Linked DNA regions of Homo sapiens: regions 2 and 3 are each linked to region 1. The links come from fine-mapping of genetic effects on plasma protein levels. A gene starts in region 1. Each other region holds a variant in brackets. All regions are shown on one strand. Distances are between the middles of the regions. Region 1 holds the start of TF (transferrin). Region 2 overlaps TF (transferrin). Region 3 overlaps TF (transferrin).

Evidence for each region. A credible set is the group of variants that fine-mapping cannot tell apart. PIP is the chance, under the fine-mapping model, that this variant and not a neighbour inherited with it causes the effect. The UK Biobank Pharma Proteomics Project read protein levels with antibody pairs (Olink). The fine-mapping took linkage between variants from a reference panel, not from the people measured, so its PIPs are less certain.
Region 2: its variant is the best candidate, but not a certain one, in a credible set for the plasma level of the TF protein (UK Biobank, PIP 0.74).
Region 3: its variant is the best candidate, but not a certain one, in a credible set for the plasma level of the TF protein (UK Biobank, PIP 0.85).

What each region holds. Positions count from the first base shown.
Region 1 is chr3:133,745,245-133,748,008 of GRCh38, forward strand. It overlaps TF (transferrin), which reads left to right and starts at 1,149. Exons shown (of 17, transcript NM_001063.4): 1 at 1,149-1,239. The coding sequence starts at 1,197.
Region 2 is chr3:133,769,263-133,772,026 of GRCh38, forward strand. It overlaps TF (transferrin), which reads left to right. Exons shown (of 17, transcript NM_001063.4): 14 at 1,246-1,310. Among named protein-coding and RNA genes, the nearest start is that of TF, 24 kb to the left of the region's middle. The variant G/A (reference allele first, on the strand shown) is at 1,675.
Region 3 is chr3:133,759,486-133,762,249 of GRCh38, forward strand. The region is part of intron 9 of TF (transferrin); the gene reads left to right. It also overlaps the pseudogene ACSL3P1. Among named protein-coding and RNA genes, the nearest start is that of TF, 14 kb to the left of the region's middle. The variant T/G (reference allele first, on the strand shown) is at 1,170.

The sequences.
Region 1 (2,764 bases):
GAGACAGAATGAATGACCATCTGGTCAGGTTGGATAAGAAGTAACTTTTGGCAAAATCTCTGAAGTCTGGATTTACACTTCGTGGAAGGAATCTTGACCTTTCCCCAAGTATATTATGCCTTGAGATAATAATCCTGTATAAGGCCGCATAAGCAAAACGACATTTGAAAATGAGTTTCATCTTTAGCTCATCCTTTTACAAATTTCTATTCCTTGTGCATGATTGAAGTGTACACATTTTTTAGTTAAAATATAAGCATATAGAAGGCACAAGTTCAATATTTTTCATGATAAGGATGTGTAATTAAACTGGTTAGGAGACTCATCGACTAGAGGGGGACATGGTGGCCCCAGGCTGTAAGAACAGGCCACACCGTCCACTGGGCCGCTTGCTTTGTGCTAAGATGACACTTTGTTCTGAGCCTCACAGTGTCTTGACCATGTTCCTGGAACCTTCTTGTTGGAGGGAGTTCATCTTCCCCTATGACTCTGTCCCTAGTCTAAGGTGTCCCACAGGAAGCTTGAGGGCGGGAAGTTTTCCAGCCCAGGAGCCTGAGCTCAGCGGGGCAGGAAGAGGGAGCAGCTCCTCCGTGGGGGACCTTTGAGAGCCCAGGAGCAGGATTTCGAGGGACACCTGGTGGGGAGCAAAAGGTGCTGAGTCTGTCTTTGACCTTGAGCCCAGCTTGTTTCTCCTGCATCCTCCCCCAAAAGGGGCTTTGCCTGTCATTCTGCAGTTCTAGTGTGGGGTCTGGGCGCAGTTCTTTTCCCTCTCCAGCCTCGGAGTCTTCCTCTGTGGACTGCGCAGATAGGACTGGTGGCACGGACCAGCTCTGCAGCCCTGGAGTCAGGAGCAGAGCCCCCCGGCTCCCAGCCCGCCGTAGCCGCTCCTGGCACCGAGCGAGCCGCGATGACAATGGCTGCATTGTGCTTCATGTCCCTTCCCATCAACATTTCTGTGCTGGACTCCTTCCACTCGCGGGTCGTCTCCAGAGCTCAGAAAATGAGGTGATCAGTGGGACGAGTAAGGAAGGGGGGTTGGGAGAGGGGCGATTGGGCAACCCGGCTGCACAAACACGGGAGGTCAAAGATTGCGCCCAGCCCGCCCAGGCCGGGAATGGAATAAAGGGACGCGGGGCGCCGGAGGCTGCACAGAAGCGAGTCCGACTGTGCTCGCTGCTCAGCGCCGCACCCGGAAGATGAGGCTCGCCGTGGGAGCCCTGCTGGTCTGCGCCGTCCTGGGTGAGTGCGGGCACGGGGTAGCACCGCAGAGTCGCTGGCCCGCGCGTTCCCTGCAACCCGGGCGGCCACCGCGCAGCCTGCATGCACTCCGCGCTCAGGCTGGAAGCCTGGGTGTCTGGGTGCCTTTCCATTGCCTCTCTACGCCCCACCCCTGGCCTTTGCTTGGGCTTCTAGACACCTTTCACTGCACTCACTGTCTTCTCCCCCTCCTCCTCTTTGTCCAGTAAATCTTGCAGCAGTGAAATACAATAAATCAGAGCACGTCTAACCAGGTTATCAAAACCCTTTGCTGCTGCCTCTTGTCAAGTCCGAACTCCTTAGCATGGCATTCAAGGCCTCCCGGGTCTGACCATTCCCCTTTCAGAGGCTGATGTCCCCTGGGTGCCCTGGGAGCTGTAGATGTCCTGCCAAGGAAGCGGTGCCATCGAGCGGTCAGAGCATGGGGTTTGAAGCCAGACTTCTTGGATCCAAGTCCTGGCCGGCTCCTCACCAGGGAGGGGGTCATCACAGCACTTGCCTGGGAGGGTCAAATGAGGGTCAGCGAGGTGGCAGATGCTGAGTACCAGTGGCAGATGTTGCACACATCCTGCTATGGGGCAGTGGCTGACGCCACACTCCCCGACCTCCTGAGGTGGGGCCCCCTTCATACTCTAACTTCTGCCTGCCATTCATGGGGCATTTGTCACACTGTTGGGGCTTCCACGTTTAGTTTTCTCTCCCCATAAGCTAGCAATTCCTTGAGAGAGGACCCCACGTTACTTGCCTTTATCCCCGCACAGAGCACTTCACAGGCTGTGCAAGGTAATGCTCCACTGAGGACACATTCTCGCCTATGGGAACTCTGGAGGCAGGGCTTTGTGGAGGGGCTGCCACAGGCTTATGTTGCCTCCTAGGATTTCCCATGGGCCAAGAGGGAAAATGGGGGTCGCTGGGGTGGCCATCCCTGGTGGCCCCTCCTCATGCATCCTGGAGAGCTGTGGGCCTCCTCTCCACAGGCTTTGTGGATCTTCTTCAGAGCCAGTGAGTCAGCCTTGCTGTGGTGGCCCACAAGGAGTGGAGATGACAGAGGGCCTTGGGGACAGGGCAAAAGCTCATGTGATAGGGATGCTGTCTCTGCAACCACATGGATTTTAATAGTTACCCATGGCTGGCTTCAGCTTTTTTTGTGAATGGCAGCCAAAAAGTGTGGTGAAAATGGAGGGATAGTTCAGTGGAGACAGAGGGGAGACTGTTGAATTTGTGGAGTTTTTAGTTCTTCCTAAACAGAGAGCAACAGACAAGAGTTACAGACAAATTAATTCTTTTCGTTAATTTACCCTCAACTACTGGCCAAGAAGGGGTGTAACTCAGAATGTTTTCTTCTTTTGTGCCCTGAGTAGCAGACCCAGAGTCTGGAGACCCAGATTCTAGGCCTGGCTTGGCCAACGACAAGCAGGGTGACCTTGGGTTAAAAAAAAAAAAAGGCATCATTCTCTGAGTCTCACTCCCTCTTCTCAAAAAGATGGCAATTCCTCCCCCGCTGGTT
Region 2 (2,764 bases), 24 kb after region 1:
TTAAGTACAATTCACATTCCCCAAGTTTCTAATTTCACAAAGTAGAGCATGTTGTTTTCATAAAGATTGAAGAGTTTGGGGGACTTAAAATAGAGTTCCCCTTTGCATTTTTGTACCTTGTCTTTTTCTGGTGATAACATATGTTTGAGAATTATAGGTCATGAGAAAAGGCTCAAATAACATGTATGTATAAACATGCTTAAAATAAATGTGTATAAAGGCTTCTTTTTCTAAACATGTCTTATAAAACTTAGCTATGAAGTAAAATGTACCAGACTGATAAAAAGACTCCAAACTCCAAAGAAAATAAAATTAAATCAATATGTGGCACAATAGGTACCCCGTCTTCTCAGCTAGCTACCCCCAAAACTCTTGAACCGATGCAGTAATAGGCAGGTTCTTTTCCTTGAAGCAAGGGGATTAAAGTACATGGAGAGCAGGGTTCAGTCCATTGTCCAAAAGTCCAACCCACTCGGCTCATTGAGGAGGGCCTTGTGTAGATTTTGAAGTACACACTAGTTCATCATCTGTGTGGTATGCCCTTTCAAAGGACTGGAAGACAGTCAAAATTAAAATTAGAACCCTACTAACCAGAGTTTATTTTGTTATTATTTCTTTTCTGAAACTTCTTGGGGACTTGTAGCTCAGAGCTGTGTTACAACCCCCATTACCACACCCAGAGATATGTGGCCTGGGAGTTAGTAGAGTCAGGTGCCTTTATGCCATGTTTTGCCATATTCTCTGCATTTCTCAAAAACAAAAACAAAAAAACCCACAACATAGCAAATGCTCCATAAATGTTAAAATTCTTTTTCAAAGGAATGAAGGACAGCACAAATTGCAATTTGTGATGGAGTTTCAGTCTCTCACAAATGTTGCCTAGACATTCGCCTTGTATGAGAACCTGAAGGAACTGAGTTTTTCATTCATATGCTGGGGGAGGCATCACCTCACTGAAAATCAATTCCCTACTATCCTTGTTGATGTCAGGGAAATTATGTCATCTCTCAGAGAAACAGTACAAAAAATTAAGATTTAGTATGTGGAACTGAGATTGTAAAACTACAATCAATTCAGAGTGTTTTGTTTTTGTTCTCTTTATTCCTTACATTGCTTACTGTTAGAATGGAAGTTACAGTTGCTGTTTTCAGATGGCTGTCCTGAATCTATAAGGTAGCCCCCTGAATGACAGATAAGTCACTCTGACCGCCTTTTTTTTTCTCTCCCACTTCTGGACCTCTGCAGGTGTCTGGTTGAGAAGGGAGATGTGGCCTTTGTGAAACACCAGACTGTCCCACAGAACACTGGGGGTAAGTGCACCTGCTCCTCTGTCCCCCTAGATCACTAGATCCTGGTCACTGGTATTCACTTGTATTCAGGGATGCCTTTGTGGAAGTATTATGTACACTGTCAGACTTCAAAGCTCTGATTCTCAGTCTGTCTGCTCAGTGAAGAGAGACATGTTCACCTGAGTGCGCAGAATGATCAGGATTATGGGGCCCCCAATGGCCCTAAATCCTCCCCAACACACACTCCCACAGCTGCAAGCCTTGTGCTCCTTTCCCCTAAATACTTCAGTGCCTATTTCCTAAGAATAAGACAATCTCTTGCATACCCACAGTATGATTACCAAGATCAGGATCTTTTACATTATGTGGATTTAATACTCGTCAC[G/A]TCCACAGTCCACATTTAACTGTTGTCAGTTATCCCAGTAATGCCTTTTATAGCTATTTACTGTACTTCTGGGTTGTGTCCATTGAGAAGGCCTAGAGGCAATGGCATACCAGCAGGAGTAAGCACCAAGATATTGGCTTGTAAGTACTCTTCTTTACTAAAAGGAACCAGAACTCCTTGGAAAAATAGCTGACTTCAGGGCTGGGGCAGGAAAAATAGATGCTGAGCCTAGAACAACACACTGAAGTGCTCAAACAGTGATGGGACACTCAAAGCATACAAGAACCAATTTGAAGGATCTCCTGTTGCCAAGTCTGGGAATTTTGAGCATTAAAATAAATAATGATAGCAGTAAGGGATAATAGCCCATTGAAAGAAATAAGAATGCATGAGGCAATACTGATTAAACAAATGAAGAAGGGAAAACTAATCAATGTGGAAGGAATGATAGAGTTAGAAAACTATCACTTGGCAACCAATATATTGATAACTGATTCAAGCAAGAATCAATGGGTGTTAAGCCGGGCGCAGTGGCTCACGCCTGTAATCCCAGAACTTTGGGAGGCCGAGGCGGGTGGATCATGAGGTCAGGAGATCGAGACCATCCTGGCCAACAAGGTGAAACCCCGTCTCTACTAAAAATACAAAAAATTAGCCGGGCGCGGTGGTGGGCGCCTGTAGTCCCAGCTACTCGGGAGGCTGAGGCAGGAGAATGGCGTGAACCTGGGAAGCGGAGCTTGCAGTGAGCCGAGATTGCGCCACTGCAGTCCGCAGTCCGGCCTGGGCGACAGAGCGAGACTCCGTCTCAAAAAAAAAAAAAAAAAAAAAAAGAATCAATGGGTGTTAACTTGTGGGTGAACGTTGGACAGCCATAATATTAATAAAAACAAACAAAACAAAGCAAAACAAACATTGGCCAGACTGAGCACTCCACACCTGACCCCTCAGTATCACTAAGTGCTAGCAGAGCCCACTGGAATTCAAGCTGTGAATACTTCCCTGCCTTCTCTCATGTTCATTCCCCAACTCCTCACTTTTCCTGGGCAACTCATCCAGAATGAACCGGCTCAGCACCAGCCCCTCCAGGAAG
Region 3 (2,764 bases), 14 kb after region 1:
ATCTTTGAGCTTGTGGATCTGAAGGGTGCCCACAGGGCTCAGTTTCCTCCTTGTATGAGTGTATGGTGAAAGGGCAGGCTGAGCAGTGCCTGCTTAGGGAGGCTGGACCATGGTGTGGGTGTCCTGAGACCAGTGGTGTGCCACGATCACTGAGATAAGATCCTGAGTACATGGTAGGATCCAATCAGGTACAAATTTGCTTTGTTGATCAAAAGAGTATCCTAGCCTGGCATGGTGGCATGCACCTGTAGTCCCAGCTACTTCGAAAGCTGAGGCAGGAGGATTGCTTGAGCCCAGGAGTTCAGGGCTAGCAACTTAGCAGGACCTTGTCTCTAACAACATTTTTTTTTTAAGAAAGAATATTCCATGTTGGCTTACAGAGAATTTTTAAAATCCTGAATGATATAAAGAAGAAATAAAAAGTACTTATAATCATGTAATTCAGAGAAAATTCCCTTATTGGGATCATTTCATGTAGGTTGCTTGCTACCTTTTACTCACTCACAGTATCTAGTAAGCTTTTCCCATATCATAAATCATTCTTGTAAAACCTAATCTGGAGCTTCTGTGTTAGTGCACACATCGAGATGGGGGAGTATGGTTTGCCTAGAGAGAACATGAAGTGCCAAGCTCCACTCCCCCTCCTCCCCACATTTCTTGCCCTCTGTGTCTCTTCCATTTGGCTATTCTTGAGTTGGATCCTTTATAATAAATCAGCAAATATATTGAAACAAAGATGCATATTATAAAGGTACTTCCTGCCATTGTCAACAGATTTTTGCTGAAATATGTTAATTCTACTTTTTGAGCACTTATGAATAACCATGTATCTTCAGAACTATCTACCATGAAGCAAAAAGGGACCATCAAGCTCATTATTTTATATTTCATACAATTTATAGATATCACTTTATGCTATTTTAACATATATTCCATTTTAATTTTTGTCTGAGTCAAGACAAGAAAAACCAAACTAAGTTAAAGCAAAGCCTACAAATTCAAAACCTGAGTCTATACAAATCTGTTAGCAGTTTGAGTGGCTGGGCTTCAATATTATACTCTGGATGTGATACAATAGATAAAGTTTTTTACGTCTGTAAAAAAAAGGAAGAGCAAAAGACTCTTGGGAACATGTGAAATCTTAAATGAAGATTAAGTACAACCAAATG[T/G]AAACATATTTTAAAAGGTTCTTCTTGGACATCATAATTTGCTCTCCTATGAAGATGTCATCGTTTGAGCCTTTAATGTTGGAAATAGCTTACAGATGTTGGGGCAGAAACCAAAGACCAACATTGCCATGTTCTGTGAGACCACGTCCAAGTGGATGATTGCTGGATAGGTATGTTTCATGCATAACATTTAGTTCATAAAATTATATGCTACTTTAGGAGGTCCAGGGCCCATGGATTAATGAAACAAAAGTAACTAATCTCATTGCTAGTAAAGAATTATTGGAAACAAAGTTGAAAGACATAGTTTATTTGGTCCCACACCTGTGACACATCATCACTGTCAATGGGAAGCCACTGACCTGTCCCAATTTCCCAAGGTTGTTATCATGGACATCATGGCTGCAGTAGAAAGTGAAGGTGAGTGTGGAAAACAGATCCCAAAGTGACCAGTGCCCTCGGTTATTGCAGTAATCATGTTCATGAGTAGACACACAGGACTTCCAAAGGGAGTCATCATCTCGCATAGAAACATCATTACTGGTATTACTGGGATGGCAGAAAGGATTCCCAGACTGGAGGAGGAAGATGACTACATTGGATATTTACCTGTGGCCCATGTTCTAGAATTAAGCTTTGAGCTTCTTTGTTTTTCTCATGGATGCCTGCTTGGCTCCTCTTCACCCCAGACTTCAGTGGATCAGTCTTTAAAAGTAAAAAATGGGCTGCCCACTGTGGCATGCAGCTGTAGTACCAGCTACTCAGGAGGCTAAGGTAGGAGGATTGCTTGAGCCCAGGAGTTTGAGTCCAGCCTGGGAAACATAGTGAGACACCATCTCAAAAAAATAAAAAATAAAAAAATAAAAACCAGAAGCAAAGGGTGTACTTCTGGGTTGAGACCAACACTGATGGCAGCTGTTCTGGAAATCATGGATCAGATCTACCAAAATGTCATGAATTAAGTGTATGAAATCAGTAGTCTTCAACACAATCTGTTTATTCTGGCTTATAATTATAAAATGGAACACATTTCAAAAGAGCATAGTACTGGATTGTGTGACAGCTTTGTTTTCTGGAAACTGTGAAGCTAGCTAGGTGGAAATATTCAGCTTTTATTGTATGAAAGTGCTCCACTTTCTGCAACACGCAGCAAGTTCATGAATACAGACTCACTGAACCTACAGGGGCTGGAACAATTACAGATGTGTGGATTACAAGACTGGCAGAAGTGAGAGTCCCATTAGTTTGCTGTGAAATTAAATTAAAGAACTGGGAGGAAGGTGGATACTTTAATACTGAAAAACCACATCCCAGAGGTAGAATTCTTATCGGTGGCTAAAATGTGACAATGGGATGCTACAGAAATGAAGCAGAAACAAAAGCTGATTTATTTGAAGATGGAAATGGACAGAAGTGATTATGTCCTAGAGATGCTGAAGAGTTTGATGGTTGTTTACAGATGATCGATCATAAAAAGGACCTTGTAAAACTACAGGCAGGAGACTATGTTTCCCTTGGGAAAGTAGAGCCAACTCTGAAGAATCTCCCAGTAATAGATGACGTTTGTGCATTTGCAAACAGTTAATTGTTCTTAT